Linked DNA regions of Homo sapiens: all the other regions are linked to region 6. Evidence: fine-mapped expression QTL. A gene starts in region 6. Each other region holds a variant in brackets. All regions are shown on one strand. Distances are from middle to middle.

What was found. PIP is the estimated chance that this variant, and not a neighbour inherited with it, causes the effect.
Region 1: its variant is fine-mapped to the expression of MED19 in lung (GTEx, PIP above 0.99). The same link has a PIP of 0.9 or more in esophagus muscle.
Region 2: its variant is fine-mapped to the expression of MED19 in whole blood (TOPMed, PIP above 0.99).
Region 3: its variant is fine-mapped to the expression of MED19 in lung (TOPMed, PIP 0.93).
Region 4: its variant is fine-mapped to the expression of MED19 in whole blood (TOPMed, PIP above 0.99).
Region 5: its variant is fine-mapped to the expression of MED19 in whole blood (INTERVAL, PIP above 0.99).
Region 7: its variant is fine-mapped to the expression of MED19 in thyroid (GTEx, PIP 0.98). The same link has a PIP of 0.9 or more in whole blood.

Annotation. Positions count from the first base shown.
Region 1 is chr11:57,829,019-57,833,083 of GRCh38, reverse strand. No RefSeq gene overlaps it. Among named protein-coding and RNA genes, the nearest start is that of CTNND1, 69 kb to the right of the region's middle. The variant TA/A (reference allele first, on the strand shown) is at 2,157.
Region 2 is chr11:57,784,396-57,788,460 of GRCh38, reverse strand. The region is part of intron 1 of CTNND1 (catenin delta 1); the gene reads right to left. The region is part of intron 2 of TMX2-CTNND1 (TMX2-CTNND1 readthrough (NMD candidate)); the gene reads right to left. Among named protein-coding and RNA genes, the nearest start is that of CTNND1, 25 kb to the right of the region's middle. RefSeq lists an enhancer at 3,705-4,065. The variant G/A (reference allele first, on the strand shown) is at 2,112.
Region 3 is chr11:57,768,852-57,772,916 of GRCh38, reverse strand. The region is part of intron 1 of CTNND1 (catenin delta 1); the gene reads right to left. All of the region lies in intron 2 of TMX2-CTNND1 (TMX2-CTNND1 readthrough (NMD candidate)), which reads right to left. Among named protein-coding and RNA genes, the nearest start is that of CTNND1, 9.1 kb to the right of the region's middle. The variant A/C (reference allele first, on the strand shown) is at 2,249.
Region 4 is chr11:57,655,838-57,659,902 of GRCh38, reverse strand. It overlaps CLP1 (cleavage factor polyribonucleotide kinase subunit 1), which reads right to left and starts at 2,141. Exons shown (of 3, transcript NM_006831.3): 1 at 2,043-2,141; 2 at 1-448. The coding sequence starts at 426. RefSeq lists an enhancer at 2,498-2,667. The variant C/A (reference allele first, on the strand shown) is at 2,193.
Region 5 is chr11:57,676,353-57,680,417 of GRCh38, reverse strand. All of the region lies in intron 2 of ZDHHC5 (zDHHC palmitoyltransferase 5), which reads right to left. Among named protein-coding and RNA genes, the nearest start is that of ZDHHC5, 10 kb to the right of the region's middle. The variant G/TG (reference allele first, on the strand shown) is at 1,848.
Region 6 is chr11:57,710,412-57,714,476 of GRCh38, reverse strand. It overlaps MED19 (mediator complex subunit 19), which reads left to right and starts at 2,262. Exons shown (of 5, transcript NM_001317078.4): 1 at 2,262-2,514. The coding sequence starts at 2,298. TMX2 (thioredoxin related transmembrane protein 2) reads right to left here and starts at 1,884. Exons shown (of 8, transcript NM_015959.4): 1 at 1,670-1,884. The coding sequence starts at 1,858. It overlaps TMX2-CTNND1 (TMX2-CTNND1 readthrough (NMD candidate)), which reads right to left and starts at 1,954. Exons shown (of 21, transcript NR_037646.1): 1 at 1,670-1,954. RefSeq lists a silencer at 2,292-2,631.
Region 7 is chr11:57,869,805-57,873,869 of GRCh38, reverse strand. LOC107984365 (cytochrome c oxidase subunit NDUFA4-like) reads left to right here and starts at 3,276. Exons shown (of 1, transcript XM_047427966.1): 1 at 3,276-3,547. The coding sequence starts at 3,299. The coding sequence ends at 3,547. The variant G/A (reference allele first, on the strand shown) is at 2,253.

The DNA.
Region 1 (4,065 bases), 120 kb before region 6:
GTCCCTGTGCCTCAGCCACATGGAGCTACTAGATCCCAAATATACCATTTTTAAAAAACTTATTACAGGGAATTCTAATTTTAAATTTTAAATAATATACAGAAAAATCAAACAAAATACTATAATGAAACTTGGTGTACCCATACCCCAGCTTGAATTACCCATAGCCAATTGTGTCACTTATAGCCTCATCTACTCTTCTCCCATACTACTTAGAAGCAAATTTCCTCATCATAACATTTTATCCATTAAAATTTCAGTACATTGCTCGAATTTACAATGAATTAATCATAACCCATGATACCACTGTCATATCTAAAAATAATAATCCCTGAGTAACATCAAATATCCAGTATTCGAATTTCCAATTGTCTCATAAAATGTCCTCTTTATGTTAGAATCCAAATAAGACGCATGCATTGAGACTGATATTTTTTAATCTATAGGTCTGTCTCCACTTTTTTTCTTCTTGCAATTAATTTATTAAAGAAATTGGGTCATTTGTAATTCCTCCCATGTTGCTAGTTACATCCTTATGGTATAGTTAAACATTGCCCCCATCTTCTGTGTTTCCTATAAAATAGTATTTGGATCTACAAGTTTGATCAGACTCAGGCTTGATATTTTTTTAAACTACTTCATAGGTGATACAGATCTCTTTTTGTGATGTTAGCAGCTGTTGATGCTCAATGCCTAAGATCCCTTTATTAGGGATTGCAAAATGATAATATTATATTTCAATCACACCTTCAATTATGAGATGAAATGTTTCTATAAAGAGAAACTTCCTCTTGCCTATGTGGACACCTAATGAACAGCATTCTTTTTATACCTCTGTACTTTTGCACATTATTCTATCTGACTTGAATGACTTCACACCTTCTCCAACTGATGGAATCCTAATTATCCTTTCAAACGAACCAAAATGTCACCTCAGTGAAGCCTTGCCCTCCTTCCTGGCAGAAGTCAACCATCTTCTAAATGTTAAAAAGAAATCATTATAGTAATGCTTACCTCATTAATGAATTTACTGCCTTCATCCCTGGGATCAGAGCTCCTCAAAGACAGGAATAGCCTTAGGCCCTAGCATCTGTATGAAGTAGTTTCCCATCACTAGTGGCATCATAACGGTTGTAGTATCATAACACAATGCATTACTCATGTATTTGTGGTGATACTGGTGTAAACAAACCTACGGCACTGTCAGCCATATAAAAGTATAGCACATACAATTATGTACAGTACATAATACTTGATAATAATGAATGATTATGTTATTGGTTTATGTATTTACTATATTTTATTATTTTGAGTATATTCCTCCTACTTATTAAAAAAAGTTAACTATGCCAGGCAGGGTGGCTCACGCTTGAAATGCCAGCATTTTGGGAGGCCAAGGCAGGAGGATTGCTTGAGCCCAGGAGTTCAAGACCAGCCTGAGCCTGGGCAACATGGTGAGACCCCGTCTCTCCAAAAAAAATACAAAACTTAGCCTGGCATGGTGGCATGCACCTGTAGTCCAGCTACTTAGGAGGCTGAGATGAGAGGATCGCCTGAGCCTGAGGAGTTCAAGGCTGCGGTGAGCCAAAATCGTGCCATTGCACTCCAGCCTGGGCGAGACAGCAAGACACTGTTTCAAAAATAAAAAAAGGTTAACTGTAAAATAGCCCCAGGCAGGTCTCTTCAGCAGATCTTCCAGAAGAAAGCATTATTGCCATAGATGATAGCTCCATGCACGTTATTGCCCCTGAAGACCTAGTAAGACACAATATGGAGGTGAAAGACAGTGATGATCCTGACCCCATGTAAGCCTAAGCTAACACGTGTGTGTGTGTGTCTTAGTTTTTGGCTTCTTTGTGTGATTGATTCATTTTGAGAGACAGGGTCTTATTCTGTCATCCAGGCTGGAGTGCAGTGGCTCACTGTAACCTGGAACTCCTGGGCTCAGGGGACCCTCCTGCCTCAGCCTCCCAAGAAGCTAGGACTACAGGAGTGCATCATTGCTCCCAGCTAATTTTTTCATTTTTTTTGTAGAGACAGGGTTTGCTATGTTTCCCAACCTTGTCTTGAACTCCTGATCTCAAGCTATCCTGCCACCTTGGCCTCCCAAAGTGCTGGAATTATGTCTTAGTTTTTAACCAAAAAAAAAAAATTTT[TA/A]AAGTAAAATAACAAAATTTAAATAGAAAATAGCTATAGAATAAGGATATGGAAGAAGAAAATATTTTTGTACAGCTGTACAATGTGTTTGTCTTAAGCTGTTATTACAAAAGAGTCAAAAGTTTTTTTTTAAATTTTTAAAGTTTGTGAAGAAAAGCTATAGTAAGCTAAGGCTAATTTATTACTGAAGAAAAATGGTTTATAAATTTAGTGTAGCCCAAGCGTACAGTAATGTCCTACGCCTTCACATCCACTCACCACTCACTCACTGACTCACCCAGAGCAATTTTCAGTTCTCAAGCTTCATTCACGTAAGTACCCTATGCAGGTAAACATTCTATGTTTAGACGTGCAAATACTTACCATATTACAATTGCCTACAGTATTCATTATTACTATAATAATGGTACACACATGCTGTACAGGTTTGTAGCCTAGGAGTAGTGGGCTATACCACATAGCCCAGGAGTGTAGTAAATGGTACCATCTAGATTTGCATAAGGACACTCTATGATGTTCCCACAACAATGAAATTGCCTAACGATGCATTTCTTAGAACATATCCTTGTGATTAAGTGATGAGTGACAGTACTGATGGGGTCAGGGTTTCACTTTTTAAGTCAGTTTCATGTAAGCAACACTATGGAATGCAGGTTACAAAGCAACTGGCAATGAGGTACCATCACAAGAATATGAGTTACCAGAATTCAAGACACTCTACAGGAAGTAAAGGCGAAGTCAGAGCTGAGATACTGAATGTCCACAGTCAGACATTAGAGAGGCCCAGAAAGGAGAGTTTGGGACCTGATTTCTCCAAAGTACAGAGAAGACATGATGAGAATCAGGTTGAGCCAGGGTCATTCCTGGGAATTCCATCAGAAACAAGTTAGAAGCAGGCTGTAGCCTTCAAACGGCTGGCTAGGACTCAAAGCCAACTGCATTCCACCTCCTTCCTCTGCACTCATTTCACAGTGTCAGGACTGTAGGCTTTGGGATGGCAGGCAGAGCAATCCCTACCTTCAGATAAGATGCAGGTTTAAAAAGCCAAAAATCCTCTGTGTTATGTTCCGAAGGAAGGGGTGGACAGGATACTTAGCATCTCTGCCCAGGGGCACAGAGCAGTAGGAAGCATATTTCCAAATCCTCTGGGGAAGTGAGTTGGAGGCTGATAAGGCTGAATTGTCCAGAGAGGGGGCAAAGCGGCCATACTGTCTGCTCATCCTAACCACAGGATCATGGGCTCTGGACTGAGGTTCCATACTGGGAAAAATGTCTCCTAAGTGGGCTATAGACTTCCATGTTGGCCACAAAAAGATTGCCCAGAAGCAGGAAGATACCAGGTCTAAAATGGCACAGACTTATAATGGTAAAATAGGCAATCACGAGGAAAACAAGGAAGACTAATATGCACTATGGTAGAAAGATGTCCATGACATGCTTTATGGGAAAAAAACAAAATTGCAGAATATGTACATCATACATTCCATTAGAAATAAATGTTTGTGGCTGGGCATGGTGGCTCACACCTGTAATCCCAACATTTTGGGAGGCTGAGGCAGGTGGATCACTTGAGGTCAGGAGTTCGAGACCAGTCTGGCCAACATGGAGAAACCCCATCTCTACTAAAAACAAACATTAGCCGGGCATGGTGGCCCACACCTGTAATCCCAGCTACTTGGGAGGCTGAGGCAGGAAAATCACTTGAACCTGGGAGGCAGAAGTTGTAGTGAGCGGAAATCAGCCTGGGCGACAGAGCGAGACTCTGTCTCAAAATAAAAAATAAAAAAGAAGTCTTTGTTGAATAAGCACTTGGAGAAAGATATCTGAAAGGATATGTAACAAATGGTTAAGAGTAGTTATTCCTGGGGAGTGACATAAAAGAGAGGCAAGAATTTTAATTCCGTAATC
Region 2 (4,065 bases), 74 kb before region 6:
ACCCAAAGGAACTGATAAGTAAGTGTCCAATAAACTCCTGAATCAATCCAGTCCCTAAGTTTAAAGAACGTGGTTGCCCTTCCCTAAATTCCTCCTACCCCAGCTCGAAGTTCCCATAATCGCCTATCAACTCTTCTTCCTTTCAGTCCAAAACCCATTGCCACTTTCTCATATTCCCACCCTACATTCCAACAGGCCACTCAAAGGTCTTTCTTGAATAAGCACCCTTATTTTAAAAAAAAAGGTGCTCCCCTTTCATCTCCATTTCTTAAGTACTTGCCCTTATCCACTATGTACAATGACCTATGAACCTTCCACACCAAGAGGACTCTGAGCTCAAAAAGAGATTCTTCCAGTTACTGAATTTCAACAGGGTCTGAAGTGCAATTACCACTCCAGCAGCATCCACCCTATAATCTTCTTTGCTAATAAAAGCCCAAATTACTGCTACCACGGGGGATACAGTGACATTCCCTGCTGCAAAGAGAAAGTGTATAGATGGCCATAAATGGCCCTGCAACTTAAATTCAGTGAAGAAGGTTAGGAAGGGAGATAGGAAAAATACTCAGGGCTCTAGGTCAGAAAGCAGTATCTGGAGAAACATTAGCTTCCACCATCTTCACAGCTTTAAAGCTGACCACCTGGCTCTAATTTGGAAAAGAAGACAGCACAATTACACAAAAAGATCAGATTCCTAGGTCTAAAAGCATGGGGAGATATTCTGCCTGAAAAAGGACAGAAGCAGAGGCCATATGGGATAGAACACAACTCAAGAAGACTGGTCCCAGTTCTGGCTCTACTACTACCCAACAATGGCAGTAAACCCTGTCATATTCTCACTTGTAAGATGCCAAATCCATTTGCCCCGTTTCCAGGAACCAAATTGGGGAAAAAGAAAAAAAATTGCTGCTTCCCAGGAGTTAGGAAATTAGCCCGGTCTAACTCAGAGTTGTTGTGAGGATTAGGTGAGACAATGTATGTTATATACAAATGTCAGGTATTAAGTTGTTTCAAAAGTTGGTTTAACACTTCCAATTACATTACTTCACCGTAATGTCTCAGCCTCAAACTATTTTGTGAACTAGTAGATGAAATCAACTGGATCAAAAACATAACTAGGTTCTAAGGAGTGAATGGGCTGGTTTCCCTACTCCTAATCTATTTACTAGAACGTCCCACCTATACCAGTGTTTCTGGGACAAAGGACACTTCTCTAGTGCCTGGAAGTCATCACATCATTACACATCTGTCATAATAAGTTCTTGATTCTGTATTTGAGGCCTTAACAATTTATTACCTTGGAGAAAGGGAATGTGAAACTAATGATTACTGAATGTTTTACATTTACTATCTTGGCAATCCTTACAACAACCCTAAGGAAGTTTTATTGCAAATAAGACTCATGGGTGAAGAAACTACCCAAGGTCTCACAGTTAATAGCAAATTTTGAATTTAAACCCAGGTCTATGCCATTCCAAAGCCTGTGTTCTCTTTCTATGCCATGGTGTCAAGTCCAAATAGAAGTGCAGTCAGTACCAGATGGATGGTCCAGAGCCTCTCCTCTACAACCTTTGAGAGCTTTCTTCTCAACTATCACAGGAAAACAGGGAAAGAAAAGGGTTCTACTTTGTTTTTTTAGGCTCAAGAGTTACCCATAATATCTACATAGAAGTGAGAAAACAGAAAAAAAATGGGAGGAAAAGGAATGTATGAGTGGGGAAAGAATGAAGCTGTTAGGCAGGCTACAGTAAATGGTCTCATCGCTTGGAGACTTAAGGAAAAAAGATTCTTCTCATGCCATATGCATCAAAAAGATCACACTACAAACCTTCAGCTGACTTTGGCAGACAGTCAGGAGTCGTAATTACAAGTCCAGCCCAATGCCTTTCCAGCTTTGCCACTTACATTTTTTATTTATTTATTTTTTTGAGATGGAGTCTCGCTTAGTGGCCCAGGCTGGAGTGCTGTGGTGCAATCTCAGCTCACTGCAACCTCCACCTCCTGGGTTCAGGCGATTCTCCTGCCTCAGCCTCCCGAATAGCTGGGATTACAGGTGCATGACACCACACCGGGCTAATTTTTTGTATTTTTAGTGGAGACGGGGTTTCACC[G/A]TGTCAGCCAGGATGGTCTCGATCTCCTGACCTCATGATCCGCCTGCCTCAGCCTCCCATAGTGCTGGGATTACAGGCGTGAGCCACGGCAGCCGGCCTCCACTTACTTAGATTTTTAAATAGACTACATTTCCTCTCACCAAAAAAAAAAAAAAAAAATCAAAGAATTCCTGAAGTCAGGGGGTTGAGGAAACATAAAGTGAAACTTGTTATTCCCCCTTAAGACTAGATTTTCTGAGAATACCTAGTTTTACTCTCAATAAGCCATTAAGTCCTACATTACTGGATCCCACCCACACTAGAAAGATATTCCTGCTATTACCCAGAGTCCATAGTCCATAGTAAAGATCCTTCATCCAAGCAATGATAATGATAAAAACTCAGTCTCGTCTGTAAGAACTCCCAACCAAAAGAAGTTAAATTAAATCAAATACCCAGAAGGACCAAACAACTAGACAGTGCTAACCAGATAGGAGGTCCAAAAAACAAAAAAATCACTTACCGGCCGGGCGTGGTGGCTCAAGCCTGTAATCCCAGCACTTTGGGAGGCCGAGGTGAGCGGATCACAAGGTCAGGGGTTTGAGACCGGCCTGACCAACATGGTGAAACCCCGTCTCTACTAAAAATAAAAAATTAGCCAGGCTTGGTGGTGCACACCTGTAATCCCAGCTACTCAGGAGGCTGAGGCAGGAGAATCACTTGAACCCGGGAGGCGGAGGTTGCAGTGAGCCGAGATCATGCCGCTGCACTCCAGCATGGGTGACAGAGCTAGACTCAGTACCCCACACACACACACACACAAAAAAATCACCTACCAATAGCACAGTCCCTGGAATGATTTCTTCTACTGTAAACTGACTAAAGAAATACAATTTGGAATTATGATTCTTAAGAGGTTAAGTGTATAGGCTTTGTTATCTGCCTGGGTTTAAGTATAAGATCTATCCTTATTAGCTATATGACTTTGGGCAAAGTATCAACCACTCGAAACTGCAGCTTCCTTTTTTGTAAAATGGAGGAATAAAAATACACAGGGTGGTTGTGAAGATTAAATGAGGCATTTCATGTAAAGTGCTTAGAAAAATGTCTTGACGCACAGAAAGCCAGTAATATTGTTACTACTACAGGGACTAGAGCTTGGGTGTGGTTGGTGGAGTTTTTGAAGTTTGTAAACCAGCCTCCCCAGGCTCCCCTCTTTCATTTGCAGCAGACCTGAAAACTACAGGAATTATTCACTTTTAGAGGGAAAAACAAAATAAAACTCCAGATTAGGGGTCAAAAGACTGGGGGTCCAAGTCTTGGCTCCTCCAAAAACTAGCTAGGAGACCTTGGAAAAGTTATAACCCCTGTAAGCTTCCATTTCTATTACTCTTCATGGTTTAGTTTTAATGAGCTAATATATATAAAACCATAGCCTATGTGAACTCTGAAGTTCACCAATCTTTGGGTTTTTGCAAAAATAATTTTGTCTTCAGAGCCAGTCTCAAAGGCAGCTCTCCTCCTTTCTTCCTATTTATTCATTATAAAATCAAAACCAATGTCATGGCCGGGCACCACGGCTCATGCCTGTAATCACAGCACTTTAGGAGGCTGAGATGGGAGGATCACTTGAGTTCAGGAGTTCGAAACCAGCCTGGTCAACATGGTGAAACCCCATCTCTACTTAAAATACAAAAAAATTAGCCGGGCATGTTGGCACACACCTGTAATCCCAGCTATTCAGGAGGCTGAGGCAGGAGAATCACTTGAACTCAAGAGACAAAAGTTTCAGTGTGCCGAGATTGTGCCACTGCACTCCAGCCTGGATGACAGAGTAAGACTCTGTCTCAAAAACAACAACAACAAAACGAGTGTCACAAATTTATGCTCTCCATCTAAAAACAATGACAGGCAAAACTCCATTTCCATGTCGTTCTAGGGAATTTTTTTTTTTTTTTTTTGAGACAGGATCTAG
Region 3 (4,065 bases), 58 kb before region 6:
AGGTTAAGAGCCAGGGCTAAAAACTCCAAAGAGAGAGGAGGAGACGGGTGAGAGAAAGAGAGAGAAAGAGGGAGAGGGAGAGAGAGAGAGGAGACAGAGCGAGACAGAGAGAGAGAGAGAGAACGAGACAGAGACTCTCACTGAGGGACAGACCAGCTAAACCAGAAATCTTAAGAGGGAAAGTAACAGTGTGTGATTCAAGACATAGGTATTCAATCAAATATCCTTTTACTTTCGTATATGCATGGAACATCAAATCACTAAATAGTTGGTGCTTCTTCCTCAACTCCAAAGTCAACTAGGTAAAGTGGCTCAGGATGTGCTTTAATAACCTCTAATGCCTAAACAAACATAAGGAAAGTTAGTTTCAGGGATAATCATCTCTCCCAATGTGCAAGACAGAAATACGGATATGGTGACCTATAAAGGGGTCCTCAAAGCCATGAATTCTCAACAATCAGGGCATGGGGAAACAGGAGCTTTTTGGTCAAATGAGCAAAAGGAGAAGCAGCAGACAAGTGGGGCAAGCCTATTTGGTCAAAAGCACATAAACCAAACCAATAAATTTTGTCCTCAAAAGGAAACTGTACAGGTCTAGGCTGTCACTCCTGCTTATAGAAAACTGACTAGTTAGATAAGAAGATGGAGAAATATACAGTATTTCTCTTGGAAAGAAAAATTTGGGGGCTGGGCACAGTAGCTCACACCTGTAATCCCAGCACTTTGGGAGGGCGAGGCAGGCAGATCACTTGAGCTCAGAAGTTTGAGACCAGCCTGGGCAACAGGGAAAAACCCTGTCTCTACAAAAAAAAAAAAAAAATACAAAAATTAGCTGGGTGTAGTAGTGCATGCCTATAGTCCCAGCTACTCAGGAGGCTGAGGTGGGAGGATGGCTTGAGCGTGGGAGGCGGAGGCTGCACTGAGCTGAGATTGTTAACACTGCCGAGACAGACCTTGTATCAAAAAAGAAAAAAAAAAAAGAAAAAGAAAAATTTTGATCCCACTTCCCAAAAACATATCAGCTTATTCTAAGTAGCTGCCTTATTATCATTCTCTAAGACAAAGGTAATCAACCTATGCAAAATCTGCTACTATGCAAATTATCTGCTAACTATACTTTCATGGAGATTCCACAATGGGAGAAATATGGAGGTTGGGTCAGGTGCTACCTCAAGTTACAAGAAAGACACAAAAATTCGGTAACAGCCGTTGTCTCTGGGGTTTGAAGTGGAGATAATTTTTCTTTGTACAATATAGTATACAACAAGACCCTACATTATTCCCCTTCCCCCAAAATACATTCCCATTGGTCCTCTCTGGACAGGTCTCTTACTTCTCCTTCCCTCCCCTCAATCTCTTTTGTTCATTGGCAATAACCAGCCTCAGGGCCTTTGCACTTCCTACTCCTCATATCTACATGACTCCATCCTCCATTTCTCTTGGTCTCTCTCAAACATACCTTACACATGAGACCCTCCCTGACCACTCTATATAAAATAACCTCACCCCCACCCTGAGACGTTCTTTCCTCCATACTACTCATTCTACTTTACTTTTTTCTCAATAATATTACCACACTCTGACATACTACATATTTACTCGCTTATTATTTGTCTCTCACAACTAGAATGTAAGCTCTTTGAGAACAAACAGTAGGTCTATTTTGTTTATTGTTGTACTTCAGTGTATGGCATAAACAGACTCTCAAATTTCTTTTGAATGGAGATGTTTTACTTCCTTCTTCAATGAATACAAAAAGTTAAATTTTAGAAAAAAAAAACAACTTTCTTTTCTTTTTCTATACTTTTTTTTTTCCAACTGTGATCTTAGTTAGGCCTATGAAGAGGCCTAGGTAGTCTTACCTGCCTATTTGGCTGACCTTCAGCACGGTAGACATCCAAGAGGCCAACTGTGCCCCAGTTAACAAAGTAGTCAATAGAGAGCAGAACAGCAATGAGGTTACAGAACTTCCCCCATTCCAACAAAGCAGGAAATAAATCAGATTGGCACCAATTTCTCTTTTAAAATAGGCTATTTTAAAAGTGTACTGAATATACACCAGCTACTTTATTTCAATGAGATTTACTTCACTTGCAATGAAATGGGAACTGCAGGTGCTTTGATAAAGGTATTGAGAAGTTGACCTAGTTTCTATAACAATGTCTTATGTCCTCAACCATGAGAATATATTTTAGTTTCTTAAAATATGAGCTTCCTAAAACAAAAATCTTTTCTTTTCTTTTTTTTT[A/C]TTTTTTTATTTTTTTTGAGATGGAGTCTCACTCTCTCGCCAGGCTAGAGTGCAGTGGCGCGATTTCGGCTCATTGCAACCTCTGCCTCCTGGGTTCAAGGGATTCTTCTGCCTCAGCCTCCTGAGGAGCTGGGACTACAGGCATGTGCCACCACGCCCAGCTAATTTTTGAAATTTTAGTAGACACAGGGTTTCACCACGTTGGCCAGGATGGTCTCAATCTCTTGACCTCGTGATCCGCCTGCCTCGGCCTCCCAAAGTGCTAGGATTACAGGTGTGAGCCACCGAGCCCAACCGTGTAACAAAAATCTTTCTTTTTTTTTTTTATTTTTTATTTTTGAGACGGAGTCTCACTCTGTTGCCCAGGCTGGAGTGCAGTGGTGCGATCTCCACTCGCCGCAACCTCCACCTCACAGATTCAAGCAATTCTCCTGCCTCAGCTTCCCGAGTAGCTGGGATTACAGGCGCCCGCCACCACGCCCGGCTAATTTTTGTATTTTTAGTAGAGACAGGGTTTCACCATTTTGGCCAGGCTGGTCTCAAACTCCTGACCTCAGGTGAACCACCTGCCTTCGGCCTCCCAAAGTGCTGGGATTACAGGCATGAACCACCACCGCGCCCAGCCACAAAAATCTTTTCACTCCACAAAGATACCTCCTAATGTGCTACTGCACTACAACATAGAACAACATAGAAAGCATAAATAAAACAGATGATTTACTCCGGAGAAAGTAATTTTTTTTTTGCTCAACTGTCAACTAAACCAAAATGAGTAATTAATCAAGAAATGCAGATGAAATCTAAAAATCAAAGATAAAACCAATCTGAATCACTAGAAGAGATCAGTCTTCTTGGATTACAATTGTATGCCTAAACTAGATCTAACTGAAATGAAGTGGTATCCTAACAGTTGTACCTTTAGCACATGGGTACAAGAAACAGAAATACGTCTTTATGTTAACTGTTAGTGAGGCAAAGCAACGCCCATGAAGACCTAAGGGAAAACCTAAAGGGAAAAAAAGGAAACCCAACCTAAAAGAAAAAAAAGATAGGGGAGGCAAGAGGAGGCAAAGAGAGACAAAGGAAGACACCACAGAGAACAGGAAAGCAAAAGAAAAGGAGAAAATACAGGAGAATTGGTAGAAGAAATTATAGGTAAAATAAATGTGAGGAACTGAATGTGGGAGGCTACAGAGTGCCAAAAGAAATTAGCTTAAATAGCCAGGCAAGGTGGTGTGTGCCTGTAGTCCCAGCTACTCCAGGGGCTGAAGTAGGAGAATCACTTGAGCCCAGGAGTTGGAGACAGGGCAACATACCAAGACTCTGTCTCTCTGTTTTTTTTTTTTTGAGACGGAGTCTCGCCCTGTCGCCCAGGCTGGGGTGCAATGACATGATATCGGCTCACTGCAACCTCCACCTCCCGGGTCCCGGGTTCAAGCGATTCTCCTGCCTCAGCCTCCCGAGTAGCTCAGATTACAGGCATGCACCACCATGCCCAGCTAATTTTTTTTTTTTTGTATCTTTAGTAGAGACAGGTTTTCACCATGTTGGCCAGGCTGGTCTCAAACTCCTGACCTCAAGTGATGCGCCTGCCTCAGCCTCCCAAAGTGCTGGGATTACAGGTGTGAGCCACCGCGCCCAGCCTCTGTCTCATTTTTAAAATAAAAATGTAAAAAAAAAAAATTATTCAAAGAAATTGGCTTAAGTACTATTTAGAACACTAGTTTCATGGGTTCTTAAGTATGAAGAAAAGGGAGGAAAAGAGAAGGAAAATTCCTAGGCTGGAATAAACCCGCAAGTTTCTAGGCAAGGTTGTA
Region 4 (4,065 bases), 55 kb after region 6:
GCCCAAACGCACTGCGTAGTTGAGCAGAAGGCGACACACTGTAGACTTGCCCACATCAGTGGGGCCCACTACCATCACTCGGGGACCTCGCTCTTCTTCCTTTTCCGCTTGCCTCCGCATCTGTTCCAAGGCTGTGTGAGTGTTGAGGTAAAGCAACATAGGAGTGTCCTTGGAGACATAAGCCACCTCAGTGCGGCCGCTCAGTTGCACAGAACAGCCATGCCAAGTGAAAACAGCCACCTTGGCACCAGCATCAAAGGTGAATTTCTTGTTTCGGGTCAGCTCTGTGCCAAAGATCTCTGCCATGCCAGTCAACAACTCCAACTGAACTGACTGAGATGCCTCCACCTCAAAGCGAAGTTCTGTTTCTCGCTCTAGTTCAAATTTAGTGGTTGGCTTCTTGTCATCATTAGCCTCTTCTCCCATCTCTTCTGTGTAGCTGCTGTGCCTAGAACACAAATTAAATATCAGATCTAATTATAAGTCAGTCTTCTGTTACAAAAACATCCAATGGGGCCAGGCATGGTGGCTCACGCCTGTAATCCCAGCACTTTGGGAAGCCGAGGTGGCTGGATCACTTGAGGTCAGGAGTTCAAGACTAGCCTGGCCAACATGGTGAAACCCTGTCTCTACTAAACATACAAAAAAAAAATTAGCCGGGCATGGTGGAGGGTGCCTGTAATCCCAGCTCTTTGGGAGGCCAAGGCAGGAGAATCGCTTGAACCCAGGTGGCAGAGGCTGCAGTGACCCGAGATTGTGCCACTGCATGCTAGCCTGGGCAACAGAGCAAGACTCCATCTCAAAAAAAAAAAAAAAAATCATCCAATGGGCCAGGCACAGTGGCTTAGGCCTGTAATTTCAGCACTTTGGGGCGCTGAGTTGGGCAGATCCCCTGAGCTCAGAAGTACAAGACCAGCCTGGGCAACATGGTGAAACCCCGTCTGTAGAAAAAATGCAAATATTGGCCAGGCCTGGTGGCTCACGCCTGTAATCCCAGCACTTTGGGAGGCCAAGGTGGGTGGATCACCTGAGGTCAGGAGTTCAAGACCAGCTTGGCCAACATGGTGAAATCTCAGTATTTACTAAAAAATACAAAAATTAGCCAGGCATAATGGTGGGCGCCTGTAGTCCCAGCTACTCAGGAGACTGAGTCAGGAGAATCGCTTGAACCCAGGAGGTGGAGGTTGCAGGGTTGCAGTGAGGCGAGATCATGCCACTGTACTCCCGCCTGGGTGACAGACCAAGGCTCTGTCTCAAAAAAAAATAAAATAAAATAAACAAATAAATAAATAAATAATAAAAACATACAATGAATGTTTCCCCTTACCTTGCTTTAATTCTCTCCATATTTCTTATCACCATCGGTCTCACTATATATTGTGTCTTCCCCGCCTCCTCCACCCCAAAATGTAAGACTTAGGCATTTTTGTTTGATACTATATACTGCTTAGAATACAGCTTGACAGACTGTAGGCACCTCAATACATTGAGTGAATTAATGTCTCAGACATCAGAGAAAAACCATACCTACAGACTGACAGAAGATTTAATTATATCACCCTCCATCACTCTATTGGTAAACTCCAAACTTGAGAAGGTAACAGATGCCCTGACCCCAATCATCCTAGTCAACAGGAAAGGGCGTCTGAAATACGGATGCAAAGCAGAGCACACCGGGTCTGAACTCAGAAAACAGCCTAATCCTCGTCTCTGTAACTACTAGTAGTGTCTTTAGACAATCACTTAACTTCTCTGAACCTTTGAAGCTGTCGACTGGAAGCACTTACACTTCCTCAAATACAGTGTTGTTCTTGGGGTTTACAGGAATTGTGGGAGGAAAAAAAAGCACTTCGTAAACTAGAAAACGGCAAGGAAACGATATGAATTATTTCTGATCCTGGACTGCAGCTCTAGCTCCAGCATTTGTCCCAACCTTCCCAGACACCAAAATCTCCCCAAGACACCAAAATCTCCCCAGACACCAAAATGTCCCCAGACCCCAAGGAGGTGACAGTTGTGTTCCTGCCCTTTTTTTAACTCACCTGCGCAGCCAGGAGCCCAACAGGTAAACTCAGAAGGTCCTCCCGTGCAGAATTTAAACCAAACTACAAGCGGTTCTTGCCCGGACCCACGCCGGAAACAAACGCAGTTCCGCACTTGCGCTGTGAAAGGACACGCGGTCGCGCGCTGCC[C/A]TTTGGGATGTGTAGTTTGCCGGAGCAGCCGAGAGCGGGTGCACTCGCTAAGCCGCTCGGCCTTCTGGGAGTTGTAGTCAAAGGATTGTTTTGAACGTGACGCCAAAGGTGGGAGGGGCGGCTGTTGTCATTATTCGTGCAGCCGGAGGGAGGGGTGAGGAGGCGTGGCGGTTGCGCCCCCGCGCTGGGCAGGGACAGGTCGAGGGACCAGGCTTCGGCAGTGCGCGTCCGCGGCGGGAATCTCGCCCCAGATTTCCTGCTCCCCTGCAGCCCAGGAAACAGAAGGGAGGCCCGGGAGAAAGAGAGACTCACTGTCTCGGTCTAGGTCCCGCGACGGCCTGCTTGCCTGGACAAGCCACGAAGCACAAAATCCTTTTTAGGCAGGGGGAAACCCAGGGATAGAGAAAGCGGAGGAAGACAGCCTGACAGAGGTTTCACCAAGCTGTCATCTCCCACCTGACACAGTGCTTGGCACATGGAAGGCATTTCAAATTTTTTTTCTTTAATAAAAGAATAAAAATCCGATGATTTCTTCCAGCTACAAGTCAGTCATTACCCAACAACCTCTCTCCCACTAAACGAGGATTTTTGTTAGGCACTCATTTCCCTCCATAAATCCCTGACAGTTACAGGTCAGTCATTTGCCCCGCAGCCAACAGGTTCCACCACGTCTATAATCCTCTTTTTACTACCTTGGGCTTTGGAATCTTATATTATTTGCTATACTGCTTACATTACTGTGTGACTTTGAGCAAATCACAGGCTTCATCTCTCTGAGATCGTTTTTTTTTTTCTTTTTGTTTTTGAGACAGGGTCTCACTCTCTCGCCCAGGTTGGAGTACAGTGCCGCGAACATGGCTCACTGCAGCCTCGACCTCCTGGGCTCAAGCGTGATATCGTTTTTTGTCTGCAAAGTTGGGATAATAACAGTGCCCAACCTCCTAAAGTTGTTTTGACGATTGCAGGAATGTGCCTGTAAAGTACTAAGTACAATGCCTGTAATATAGAAAAAAATCTGATATCAGCTTTTACGTTTTTATTATAGGCTGGGGCGGAAGGGGCTATAATATCATTCATTCGTGCAATACTTAACATTTTTCAGATCCCTTTCAGGCATCTTCTTTCACAGCCACCCTGTAAAGACAGCTTTATTATATCCAATTTCAGATGGGGGAGGAGACTCAGATAGGTGCAGAGGTTTGCCCAAACATTAACAGCCATTGGTAGAGCTAGGACTCAAACCCAGAGTTTCTGAGTCCGGTTATAATAATAGTAAACATTTAGGCCAGGCGCGGTGGCTCACGCCTGCAGTCTCAGCACTTTGGGAGGCCGAGACGGGCGGATCACCTGAGGTCAGGAGTTCGAGACCAGCCTGACCAACATGGTGAAACCCCATCTATACTAAAAATACAAAAATTAGCTAGGCGTGGTGGCGGGCGCCTGTAATCCCGGCTACTTGGGAGGCTGAGGCAGGAGAATCGCTTGAACCGGGGAGGCGGAGGTTGCAGTGAACTGAGATCACGCCACTGCACACCAGCCTAGGCAACAGAGTGAGACTCTGTCTCACAAAAAAAATCACATTTAAGGCAGGGCGTGGTGGCTCACGCCTGTAATCCCAGCACTTTGGGAGGCCGAGGTGGGTGGATCACGAGGTCAGGAGATCGAGACCATCCTGGCTAACATAGTGAAACCCCGTCTCGACTAAAAATACAAAAAAATTAGCTGGGCGTGGTGGCAGGCGCCTGTAGTCCCAGCTACTAGGGAGGCTGAGGCAGGAGAATGGCCTGACCCCGGGAGGCGGAGCTTGCAGTGAGCTGAGATCCTGCCACTGCACTCCAGCCTGGGCGACAGCGCGAGACTCTGTCTCAAAAAA
Region 5 (4,065 bases), 34 kb after region 6:
TCAATCTTTCTGACTCGACTCTTTCTTCAGTTTTGTTTTTTGAGACAGGGTCTCGCTCTCTTGCCCAGGCTGGAGTGTAGTGGCAAGATCACAGCTCACTGCAGCCTCAAACTCCTGAGCTCCAGTGATCCTCCCACCCCAGCCTCCTGGGTAGCTGGGACTACAGATGCACACCACCACGCCCGGCTAATTTTTTGTAGAGACAGGGTTTCACCATGTTGCCCAGGCTGGACTCAACTCTTGAGCTCAAAGCGATTTGCCCGCCTCAGCCTCCCAAAGTGCTGGGATTACAGACATGAGCCACCATGCCCAGCCAGTTTCATTTTTAGGCAAAGCAACTCAGTTTCTTGGGGATCCTGCCAACCTATCCCTGGATGATGAACTTTACCCTACAACCTTCTGGATATCAACTTGGTCCAGATAAAGTGTGTAATCCTGGAATGGAATTCCAGTATCTGTTGCCAAAATAAAGTCTGCCCCCACAGTGCCAGAATCTAGAAATGATGCAAATAACAACTTCATGGACAATATTTGCTCCTAGATTCACAGAACCATTGCTTCCAATCAGCACTATAAGGGAACACCCCACCAAGGAGAGGCATGTGTGAGCAGAGCCCGTTCTTGCCATATCCCAAATTCTGCTTGATTTAAGGAGAGGCTTTCCGTTGCTATGGTACTTTGCCAGATTCCTAGGTGACCACCCCAAGTGGCCTGTCTGAATCTGTTGCCTTTGATGGAAGATGAGGCCAGAGCTCAGAACAGGAGATGTTGGGGCTCGTCCTTAGACTATGGCAATAATCATAAAGCTCTAAAAGCCTAGGGAGTGGTCACAGCCCAGAAGGCTGGCTGACTCATTGACAGGACTACCAGACCTATACCATCTCAGGTAGAACGGGTTCTTCTGCCCATCCATTCAGCACTCCTGTTTTCAAGACCAAATAAAATTGGCAGAGTGGGGCCAGGTATGGTGGCTCACGCCTGTAACCCTAGCACTCTGGGACACCAAGGTAAGTGGATCACCTGAGGTCAGGAGTTCGAGACCAGCCTGGCCAACATGGTGAAACTCTGTCTCTACTAAAAATACAAAAATTATCCGGGCGTGGTGGTGGGCACCAGTAATCCCAGCTACTCGGGAGGCTGAGGCAAGAGAATCACTTGAACCCGGGGGGCAGAGGTTGCAGTGAGCCAAGATCGCGCCACTTCACGACAGCCTGGGCGTAAAAGCCAAACTCCGTCTCAAAATATATATACAAAATAAAATAAAAAATAAAAATAAATAAAATTGGGAGAATGGATTCCAATATCCACACTCCTGAAACCCTGTTTCAGAGCACTCCCTAATGCATCCTGTTACAAAAAAATGGTTAAGTTCTTAGAAAGAAACACAAAGTAGGAGTCAAGAATCTTTGGATTTTAATCCTGCCTCAATTAATACTTCTCTATGCAAGGCCTTAGGTAATCCACATGAAACTCTCCAACCTTGTTACTTCAGCTACATAGTACAAACATGAGAATGAAGGAGAAAGATCTTCATTCAAAAGTTATTAGAATTCATTTTTTTTGAGACAGGGTCTCGCTCTGTCACCCATGCTTGGCTCACTAAAATTGCCTCCCAGATTCAAGCAACCCTTCAGCCTTACCCTCCCAAGTAGCTGGGACTACAGGTGCATGCCACCATGACCAGCTGACTTTGCTTATTTTTTGTAGAGACAGGTCTCACTATGTTGGCCAGGCTGGTCTCGAACTCCTGGGCTCAGCGATCCTCCCGCCTCAGCCTCCCAAAGTACTAGGATTACAGGTGTGAGCCACTGCTCCCAGCCGCTAGAATTTTTTTTTTTTTTTTTTTT[G/TG]AGACAGAGTTTTGCTCTGTCACCCAGGCTGGAGTGCAGTGACGCGATCTCGGCTCACTGCAAGCTCCGCCTCCCGGGTTCACACCATTTTCCTGCCTCAGCCTCCCGAGTAGCTGGGACTACAGGCGCCCACCACCACGCCTGGCTAATTTTTTTGTATTTTTAGTAGAGAACGGGTTTCACCGTGTTAGCCAGGATGGTCTCGATCTCCTGACCTCCTGATCTGCCTGTCTCAGCCTCCCAAAGTGCTAGAATTCTTTTTAAACTAGCTGGCTTGATACTGAGCATTCAGTGGACAGAAGACAAAAGAAAACATTATTAACTATCACCATCATTATCATCATCATCAATTATTCCACCTCTACCTTCCCCTATCTGAAATACTAGGAATTCAAGGACACTTAAAACAGAGACACTAAGCTCCTAAAGAATAGGTCTATGCATTCTGCCCATGCCTAGCATATTGCTTGAGCATATGACTAGTGTTCCTTGTTGATGAGAGAAGGCTGAAATGAATGTTCCACTTCCTGCCCATGGGGATCCTCATTTAGAAATCCTTTCCTCAAGATTCCATGAGAAAACAATTTCTCCCTTTACAGGTGGGCAACCCAGTTTCTCTGAAAACACCTGATTTGTGGTACCCAGACTTTCAACCAGCTGAATGTGAGACGTAGGACCTGGGCACTTATTCCTGGATAAGAAAACAATGTGAGAAGGAAAAGGCACAACCACTGCTCCATTAATGTGCTAAATCACAAGGCTGCTCCCACTCAAATCAGGTGCTAATACCTCTGCAGTTACGGGGGAGGGGGGACCAGAGAGAACTCCATGGAGGTCGGCCAACTTCCTGTGGGTAAAAGGGTTGGAAGAGGACTGAGGCAGAAACTGAAAAGCCGCAAACTATATAATGGATGGGAGCCTGAAAAGACCATCATGGATTTCCATACAACTCTGACTTTATCCTTCCCTTAGATCACGTGAAGTGGCCAGGTGCGGTGGCTCACGACTGTAATCCCAGGACTTTGAGAGGCCGAGGTGGGTGGATCACCTGAAGTCAGGAGTTTGAGGCCAGCCTGGCCATTATGGTGAAACCCCAACTCTACTAAAAATACAAAAATTAGCTGGGCTTAGTGGCAGGCGCCTGTAATTCCAGCTACTCAGGAGGTTGAGGCAGGAGAATCGCTTGAACCCAGGAGGCAGAGGTTGCAGTGAGCCGAGATCACACCACCACACTCCAGCCTGGGCAACAGAGTAAGACTCCATCTCAAAAAAAAAAAAAAAAAAAAATCACGTGAAGCAGAGATCTTATCCTGCCCCCTCCCCACCAGCTTTAGAAATGGATAAAATAGGGGCTGGGCGTGGTGGCTCACGCCTGTAATCCCAGCACTTTGGGAGGCTGAGGCGGGCAGATCACGAGGCCAGGAGATCACGACCATCCTGGCTAACACGGTGAAACCCCTTCTCTACTAAAAATACAAAAAATTAGCCGGGTGTAGTGGTGGGTGCCTGTAGTCCCAGCTACTCGGGAGGCTGAGGCAGGAGAATGGCATGAACCCAGGAGGCAGAGCTTGCAGCGAGCCGAGATCGCGCCACTGCACTCCAGCCTGGGCGACAGAGTAAGACTCCATCTCAAAAAAAAAAAAAAAAAAAAAAAAAAAAAATCACGTGAAGCAGAGATCTTATCCTGCCCCCTCCCACCAGCTTTAGAAATGGATAAAATAAGACCTTAACTGGACTAATTCACAGTTTGATGAGACTTTAAACAAGATACAATTCAAAGTGATTCGAAATGGTGTTACCAGGAGCACTAGGTCTCAGGAGATCCTACACGGTAAAGAGGCGATACCAAGGGGCTGGGCCTCTATATGCCAGCCTCACTTGAACCAGAGCAGCCCTAATTTTTATGTTGGTTTTTTTTTTTGTATATAAGATTTCATTTGAAAAAGGGTCATGTTGCTTAAACAAACTGCTGTAGGTCAACGTTCTCACTGTAAACAGGAAGAACTTAGGTCCACAAAGGTTAACAGACTTCACCAGAATCAATCTCCTGACCTCCCCCAAAGAGGGCTTATCCCACTTACCTAGGACTGCCCCTCTGCCAGTCAAAAAACAAGATTAAACTAAGATAGATAAGCATCCAAGTAGTTATCCTAAATGAAGTCTAGTAACTAACTGGGAGGTAGAAGGTTACTTCAGCAGACACTCTCCCTCCCAAATA
Region 6 (4,065 bases):
TAGGAAAATAGATTGCTATTAATCTTCCCAATTGACTGCCCTCCAGACTCTAAAGAAACTAGTTTATAGACTATACCAGATATTAAGCTTTGTTTGTCTTGTTCCATAGAAATGTCTCTCTTATTAAATACCTGTTTGCCTACATCATATACAGAGGCCTAGCTTTGAGAACTCATCTACAATGCCATCTTCTGAAATGAGACACAACAATTTAATTGAACTGGACTATCCCCCAAAATGAGAGGCTGGTTTAATGGGATCCTTTGCCGCTCAATTACTAGCCCGATTTCTCTCTCCACAGACACCAACTCAGCTTATAGTGAAACTTCTAAGGAAGTTTCAGACAAAGGAAATAAAGAAGACCAGGGACTCACACCCCAAAATATGGCATCCTGTATGCTAATCATTTTAAATTAAAGGTCCCTGGAAACCAGCAGATACTGGAAGCAGCTTTACTCTGATAACTACCTTATCTGCCTAAAGTCCAGACCTGTCAAAGAAGACAACAATTACTTCTGGTCTCTTCCCTGAGTTTTCATTAACTTACTTCAGTACAAGAAGAAAGATGGAAGCCTGTCAACACACCTGGACAGATTTTTGTCAGAAACCATTGTCTGCTCTGCAGGCCCAACAGTCATTGTCCCAGGCCACTGTATGTTCTCCAGGCCACTGAATCACCCTAAAAATCATTTACGATCCACCTTAAAATCACCCACATTTTCCCATCTCCCATATTCCTATGAAAGAGGGTATATAAGCATCTGTACCCCACTGGGTCATTCTCCTGCAATTCCCTCATGCTATGCACGTTAAAATAAAATTTCTATGCCTTTCTCCTATTAATGTGCCCTTTGTCGGTTGATTTTTCAACAAACCCTCAGAGAGCAAAGGGGAAGCTTTTCCTTGGCCCCTACATGCTATATGGCAGAAGGGAAAGTGCTTTAAGTTTATGTTCCGAGCAGTCCCTCCACCCATACCAAGGAAGCACAGCAAGGAGCTTGGGACACTTCCCAAAGAAATCCCAAAGATTTCTTTACAACGTATTTTTTACAATTCCTTTACAGTAGCCCCCAAATTTTATCCACTTTCGCATCTTCAGGATCAAGCAGAGTGCCTAGAGTGTACACTCTAGAAATGTTTATTGAATTAAGAAGCGGCTGACAGTGTTGTGCAGGTAGTGTGGCCAGAAGAGTAGTTTCAAGTCCCAGGCACTCATTAGTTGTATGACCTGGGGCAAGTCACCTAAATATACCGAGATCCATTTCTTCACCAATGAAACAGGAATATTACTACTTGCCTTGTCTACCTTACTGGCTCCTCAGGAGGCTTTACATAATGAGCGGCACTGTAAAACGTTATACACGTGTATGTACAGTTTTGATAGGGCTGTTAATTAGTCTCAATGGTGAAACAGAAAGAAACCTGGACTCAACAGTCAAAAGCTGTTGGGCCGTTGTGCATGGGCTACGACTAACATGTTCCGTTTTCCCATCTTAAACACAAAGTTTAGACTCGATGATGGTTCGGACCCTGCACTTAATAGTCTCTAAGTCCGCTACAGGCTCGGAACCTCAGGTGTCCTCAGAGAGGTAAACCCCAGGGTTCCCAGATACACCTGCAAGGGCAGGGACAGTCAAGGTCGCGGGGTACTAACACGCGGGAGGCTCACCCAGTCAAAGTCACACGGGTTACCGTCTTCGCGTTGGGTGGGCAGACCGTGGCAGAGCGGCGGCAGTTTCCTCACGAGTAGGAAGGCAGCAGAGAGCAGGGCCGACAGAAGGTAGTAAGGTTGGGCGAGCCATCGTGAAAGTCGCGGCACCGAATACACGAGAGCAATTAGAGGTGCCAAGACCGCCATCTTTTCGGCCGTAACGGCCACTGCTCGCCGGCGTCGTAGGTCTCGCCCCGCCTCCCCCACCATAACGACTGCTATTGGGCTATATCGCAAACGTACGGCCTCTAAACCCGGATGTAGTTCTCTGAACGCTGTGGTAGGTCAGAACCCAAAAAAGAACTTAATATTTTATTGGTTAGTCTAGTTGTCGCTTTATCCGCCTAAGTCATTTTATTGGACTGTAGCAAGCAGAGCTAGCAGAAGACTCTAATAAGGTTAAATAGCACTTCCTGAACGTTCTCATAAGGCGACGGAAGTAGTTGTTGAAAAAAGGTAGGCGGTGCCTGAGGCATCCAATGACAAGCGGCTCCTTGAGAAAGGGCGGGGGGGTACTCCTTGAAAGCATTGTCCAATGAAAATTACCAACGGCAGACACGGAGACAGCGCCGGGGCGGAGGGTACGATGGAGAATTTCACGGCACTGTTTGGGGCTCAGGCTGACCCACCACCGCCCCCAACCGCACTCGGCTTCGGACCAGGAAAGCCTCCACCCCCGCCACCGCCTCCTGCGGGCGGGGGACCCGGCACGGCCCCGCCTCCCACCGCGGCCACGGCTCCTCCTGGCGCGGACAAGTCAGGAGCTGGCTGTGGCCCTTTTTACCTCATGAGGGAACTGCCAGGTGAGTACTCGGCCTTGCCAAAGCCAGCCAATCAAATCTTAGAGAGGAGGTGATGGGCGTGGCTCTCAGCCGGCTAGCGGAGGTGCGAGGTAACCTAGGCAACGCATACCCGGACTGTGGAGCCCTAAGTCGGAAGCGCTGTTAGGATTCACAAGCAGAGGGATGACTTGAATTCAACCAGGATGAGTTGAATTCAACCAAAGGGATGAATGGCGGGCAGGGGCGTAGTGCATCTCCGTTACTGTCTTTTGCACCATGTCCAGGCTGTGTCCCTGACACTGGTTTATGTCTCTCTAAAAAATGACCTAGGGCTGGGCGCGGTGGCTCACGCCTGTAATCCCAACACTCTGGGAGGCGGAGGCGGGCGAATCACCTAAGGTCAGGAGTTCGAGACCGGCCTGGCCAACATGATGAAACCCTGTCTCCACAAAAAACACAAAAATTACCTGGGCGTGGTGGCGTATACCTTTAATTCCAGCTACTCGGGAGGCTGAGGCGGGAGAATCGTTTGAACCCCGGGAGGCGGAGGTTGCAGAGAGCCGACATTGCTCCACTGCACTCCAGCCTGGGCGAACGAGACTCCGTCTCAAAACAAACAAAATCCAGGGTTTGAGTTTGGAACTCGAGAGGCCTGATTTAATATCTTTGGGGACCCAAAGTTTTAGTTACAGGTCTCCCACAGACTTGCTATTGGTTTGGGGCAAGTTGCCATTCTTCCTTCTAAGGTTCCGGCATTTCCTGGTCTGATCAAAAAAGGGATAAGAATCGAACCAAACTCTTCATTCAAAAAATTATTTTGTTGAGTACCTATGTACCAAGCACTTTTCTAAATGCTGGAGACAGTTGTGAACAAGACTGACAAGATGCTTGCCTTTTTTGGGATGTACATTTCAGTGGAGGAGGCATTGTAAACAAGATAATGTCAGAAAGTGGTTAATGCTAGGAAAAGAAAACATGATAAAAATTGAAGGTGGCCAGGCGCGTTGCTCACGCCTGTAATCCCAGCGCTTTGGGAGGCCGAGGCAGAATCCCTTGAGCCCAGGAGTTTGAGACCAGCATGGGCAACATGGCGAGACCCAGTCTCTACAAAATATACAAGATTAACCGGGCGTGGTAATGCATGCCTGTAGCCCCAGCTACTCAGGAGGCTAAGGGAGGAGAATCGCTTGAACACAGGAGGTCGAGGCTGCAGTGAACCAAGATTGTGCCACTGCACTCCAGCCTGGGCAACAGATGAGACCCTGTCTCTTAAAAAAAAAAAATTGAGGGGCAGAACTACTTTAGCTAGAGTGGCCAGAGATGCTCTCTTCACATAGCTAACATTTGAACTAAAATGTAAGCATAGACAAAGGGCCAGCCATGTATGGACAGGAGGGAGAGACAATTGTAGATACAAGAAATGAGGTCAGAAACCCTGATGTGAGAAAAAGCTTAGAATATCTGAGGGACAGAAAATCAGTTGGACTCCAGTGAAGTGAACAAAAGGAAAGAGTGTTAGGGAGAGAGATGAAGCTGGGAGAGTTAGGCAGAGGCTTTTATAAAGCAGTAAAG
Region 7 (4,065 bases), 160 kb before region 6:
TTCCCTGAGGCCTGAACCTCCCAGGTAGGGAGGTGGTGTGTTTCAAGGACCTTCCAGAGCTCTAAGCCTCCAGAGCCACCAGAGATCAAGAGGAGATGAAGCCAGCTTTATAAGCTCTGGGCAGGACCAAGATGCAACCGTAGCTTCAGTCCTGAATGCCACATCCTGTTTGCCTGAGCTGTGTGTCTTATCAAGTCTGAATGTGTGGCTACCCCAGGAACAGCTTTAGAGAGGAGAAATTGAAGATACAGGCTGGAGTGGAAGGGAGTCCCAGAACTACCCCTACGTGGCTGGCCTGGGAGGATCTTGAGTCCCCCCAGCCATCTTGAGGTATATCGGGCTGGGGAGCACCATCTGCTAAGGTTGGTATTTTTCTATTGCAGATTTTACTGCGTTCCACCAGAGCTGATTCAGAAGGCTGAGGTTGCCTGTTCTCTTCCCCTTCCCTTCAAAATCCACACCCACACCATCCCTTACTCTGTCAGCCTTTAAGCATTTCCTGAGATCCCATGGTATTCAACGGTCTTGAGCAATGTTTTCCAGCTCCCCATTCATCAGGTACGCATAATCTAACTTGGTGGAAGTTAATGTACATCAGGTACCTACCTTGTTTCCAGAAGTGTGCTGAGTACAACATTGACACGCATTGTCTTTCAATCCTCACAGAAACTGAGGCTCAGAGAGGTTAAGTAACTCTGCCAAGTTTCCTGACCCCTTCCAATGCACCTTTTGCCCGGTAAATGTTTACTGAGGTTAATTCCCAGTTCCAGGTGATCGCACTTCCCCATCTCCTCCAACTAGCAACACCTTTCTCATTCCTCAAGGCTCAGCCCCGTGCCTCCTGGTCCTGAAGTCTCCCCAGAGCACCCCAAGCTGCAATCACCCTTCCCTCAATGGGTTCCTGCTGGCAGTGGGCTCCACCCAACTTCACTCGTTTTCATGGAAGCAAGTGTGTCTCTTAACAAAATTTTAAGATCTTAAGTGGCCACAGCCGTGTCTTATGCTATTGTTTAAATACTTTGAACAACTATGATGGTTTAAATACTTTGAACAACCATAATTGTTTAAACCCTTTTGAACGACTGCAATTGTTCAAATATTTTCAGATTATAGTAGTTGTTCAAATAGTCACTGACAGCTTCTTATATAGCTTAAAACAGCCTCTGCTCTCAGAAGTTATGTGATAGGGAAGCAAAGCAACACCATGCAGGAGGGAAGAAAGACTTAGAAACATTGACAGACCCTGTTACACAATTCTAAATATGTGTGTGAGTAAAAATCAACTGCCAGATGACAACAGCACACAAAACAAGGACTCACTGGGGAAAGGGAAGTCTTACTAGAAGGACTGAGGGATGGCATTGCGGGATTATAGAGGAAGCCGGAAGGGATGATAGAGGAGACCTGGAGGGATGATAGAGGAGACCTGGAGGGATGCTAGAGGAGACCTGGAGGGATGCTAGAGGAGACCTGGAGGGATGCTAGAGGAGACCTGGAGGGATGCTTGAGGAGACCTGGAGGGATGATAGAGGAAACCTGGAAATACTCTGCACTTGGGAACCTCAAAGTACACCTGGAAGGCTGTTGCCGAGGTCACAACAATTGAGAATTATTAATAGGTGTGTCTCTGAAGGAATCAAATGGCCATATGGAAGTTGAGATGGGAGCAGTGGAGGATTAGGAGGGAATGCAGTACTGGGCCGTGGGAAGATGGTGGAAGAGAGGGATTGGGAAGGTAAACAAGAAACATTATTTGCTGGATTCCAGGAATTCAGCCTAAATATATGGCTGGGCATGGTGGCTCATGCCTGTTATCCCAACACTTTGGGAGGCCAAGGTGGGCAGACCACCTGAGGTCAGGAGTTCAAGACCAGACTGACCAACATGGTGAAACCCTGTCTCTACTAAAAATACAAAAATTAGCCAGGCATAGTGGCACGTGCCTGTAATTCCAGCTACTCAGGAGGCTGAGGCAGGAGAATTGCTTGAAGCCGGGAGGCAGAGGTTGCAGTGAGCCGAGATCATGCTGCTGCACTCCAGTCTGGGTGACAGAGCGAGACTGTCTCAAAAAAAAAATTGTTTTAAATAATAATAATGCTGAGTATGACTTTGTGAATGTGCGTGCCTAAGGGACTGGTCTGTCATCCTATCAGAGAAAAATGAAAGCAATAATACTCATTGTAGATCAGAGACTCGTGGACATTTAGATTTGAACAGAAGGAAACCCCTAAGAAAGGTAGAAAAGAATAAGC[G/A]TAAATGATACATGGGGCATCTGGGTGGAGAAACTGGGGCACAGGCCAGGAGGCTGACTGTGCTAGGTTGAACGTCAAGGGTGAATCACGGATAGGATTCTGCCACACCACCAGGACCCTGACTTTTGAGATCACATATTCTGACCTTTCCAGTAAATAGACGGTCATTCTGCGAAGGGCATGGAATGTTTCTTGAATTCTCCTACAGTCACATAATCACAGGCCCATCTCTGGGAGGGAGGGAGGAGAGGCAGCAAGGGCGGAGGCAGGGTCTTGGAGGTTTCAGTAGCCGGCTAGTTCTTCTAAGGCCACAGTCTTCAAATGAGGGTTGGTAGCCCTGAGGGTAAGTGAAGACTCTTCAAAGGGTTCACAGGCAAGACCTTCTAAGGGCACCGGTTTCCAGAACCTCAATGTCCATATCTATGCTTTCCTAAAACTGACATGCTTGAGAACACCTCTGTGATGAGAATGCTGGACTGTCTCTCATCTCCCCCTTCACAATTGCCCTTCTCCCACTTTTGAAAAGAAATGCATGCTTTTTTTTTTTTGCTTTTTTTTTTTTTTTTTTTGAGATGGAGTCTTGCTTTGTCCCCCAGGCTGGAGAGCAGTGGCTTGCTCTCAGCTCACTGCAACCTTCACCTCCCAGGTTCAAGCGATTCTCCTGCCTCAGACTCTTGAGTAGCTGGGATTATAGGCACACACCACCACGCCCAGCTAATTTTTGTATTTTTAGTAGAAACAGGGTTTCACTATGTTGGCCAGGCTGGTCTCCAACTCCTGACCTCAAGTTATCCACCCTCCTTGGCCTCTCAAAGTGCTGGGATTATAGGCATGAGCCACCACACCCAGCCAAGAAATATATGCTTCTAACCTATGCTGAATCTTATGAGAAGGCATCTCACCAGCATATGCAAATTTCCAGAATACCACACGAAGATATAATTTGATAACTAAGTATTGAAAAAGTAAATAGAGATACTGCTTAGTCCAGAGCCTATTAGCTAGGCTTGTTCTCTCCTTTCGAATCAGAGGTTTCTGCTGCAGACATGCCCCACCAGACCCTTAGTCAGACCAAGAAGAATCCGAGTTTGATATCCTGCTTCATATTTATTGGAGCTGGGAGTACTGGAGCAGCATGGTATGTCTTGTGTCTGGCATCTTTCAGTCCAGATGTTAGTTGGGCCAGAAACAATAACCCAGAACCCTGGAACAAACTGAGTCCCAATGATCAATACAAGTCCTACTCAGTGAATGTAGATTACAGCAAACTGAAGAAAGAAGGCCCAGATTTCTAAATGAAATGCTTCACTGTAAAGCTGCTTAGAATTAGGATCTTCTAGACGCCATCCACACACTTTTCCACTTAACCAGGAAATATTTCTCCTCCACAAACATGAAATCATGCTGGTGTACTGCGTTGGACATTACACTGATGAATAAATAACTGAAACGTGAAAAAAAGGAAAGAAAAAGCAACTAACTTTAGAATGCCTACAAAATCCCTTTTTTGGCTTCTTGTAGAAGGAGCCTTATACTTAACTTGGTATTTGATATAGTTTGGATGTTTGTCCCCACCAAATCTCATGTTGAAATGTGGTCCCCAGTGTTGGAGGTGGAGGCTGGTGGGAGGTGTTTGGGTCATAGGGGCTGATCCCTCATGAACGTCTTGGTGCCATCCCCACGGTAATGAGTGAGTTCCTGCTCTGTTAGTTCACACAAGAGCTGGTTGTTTAAAGGAGCCTGGCACCTCCTCCCCATTCTCTCTTGCTCCCTTTCTTGCTGTGTAACACACCTGCTCCCCCTTCCCCTTCCT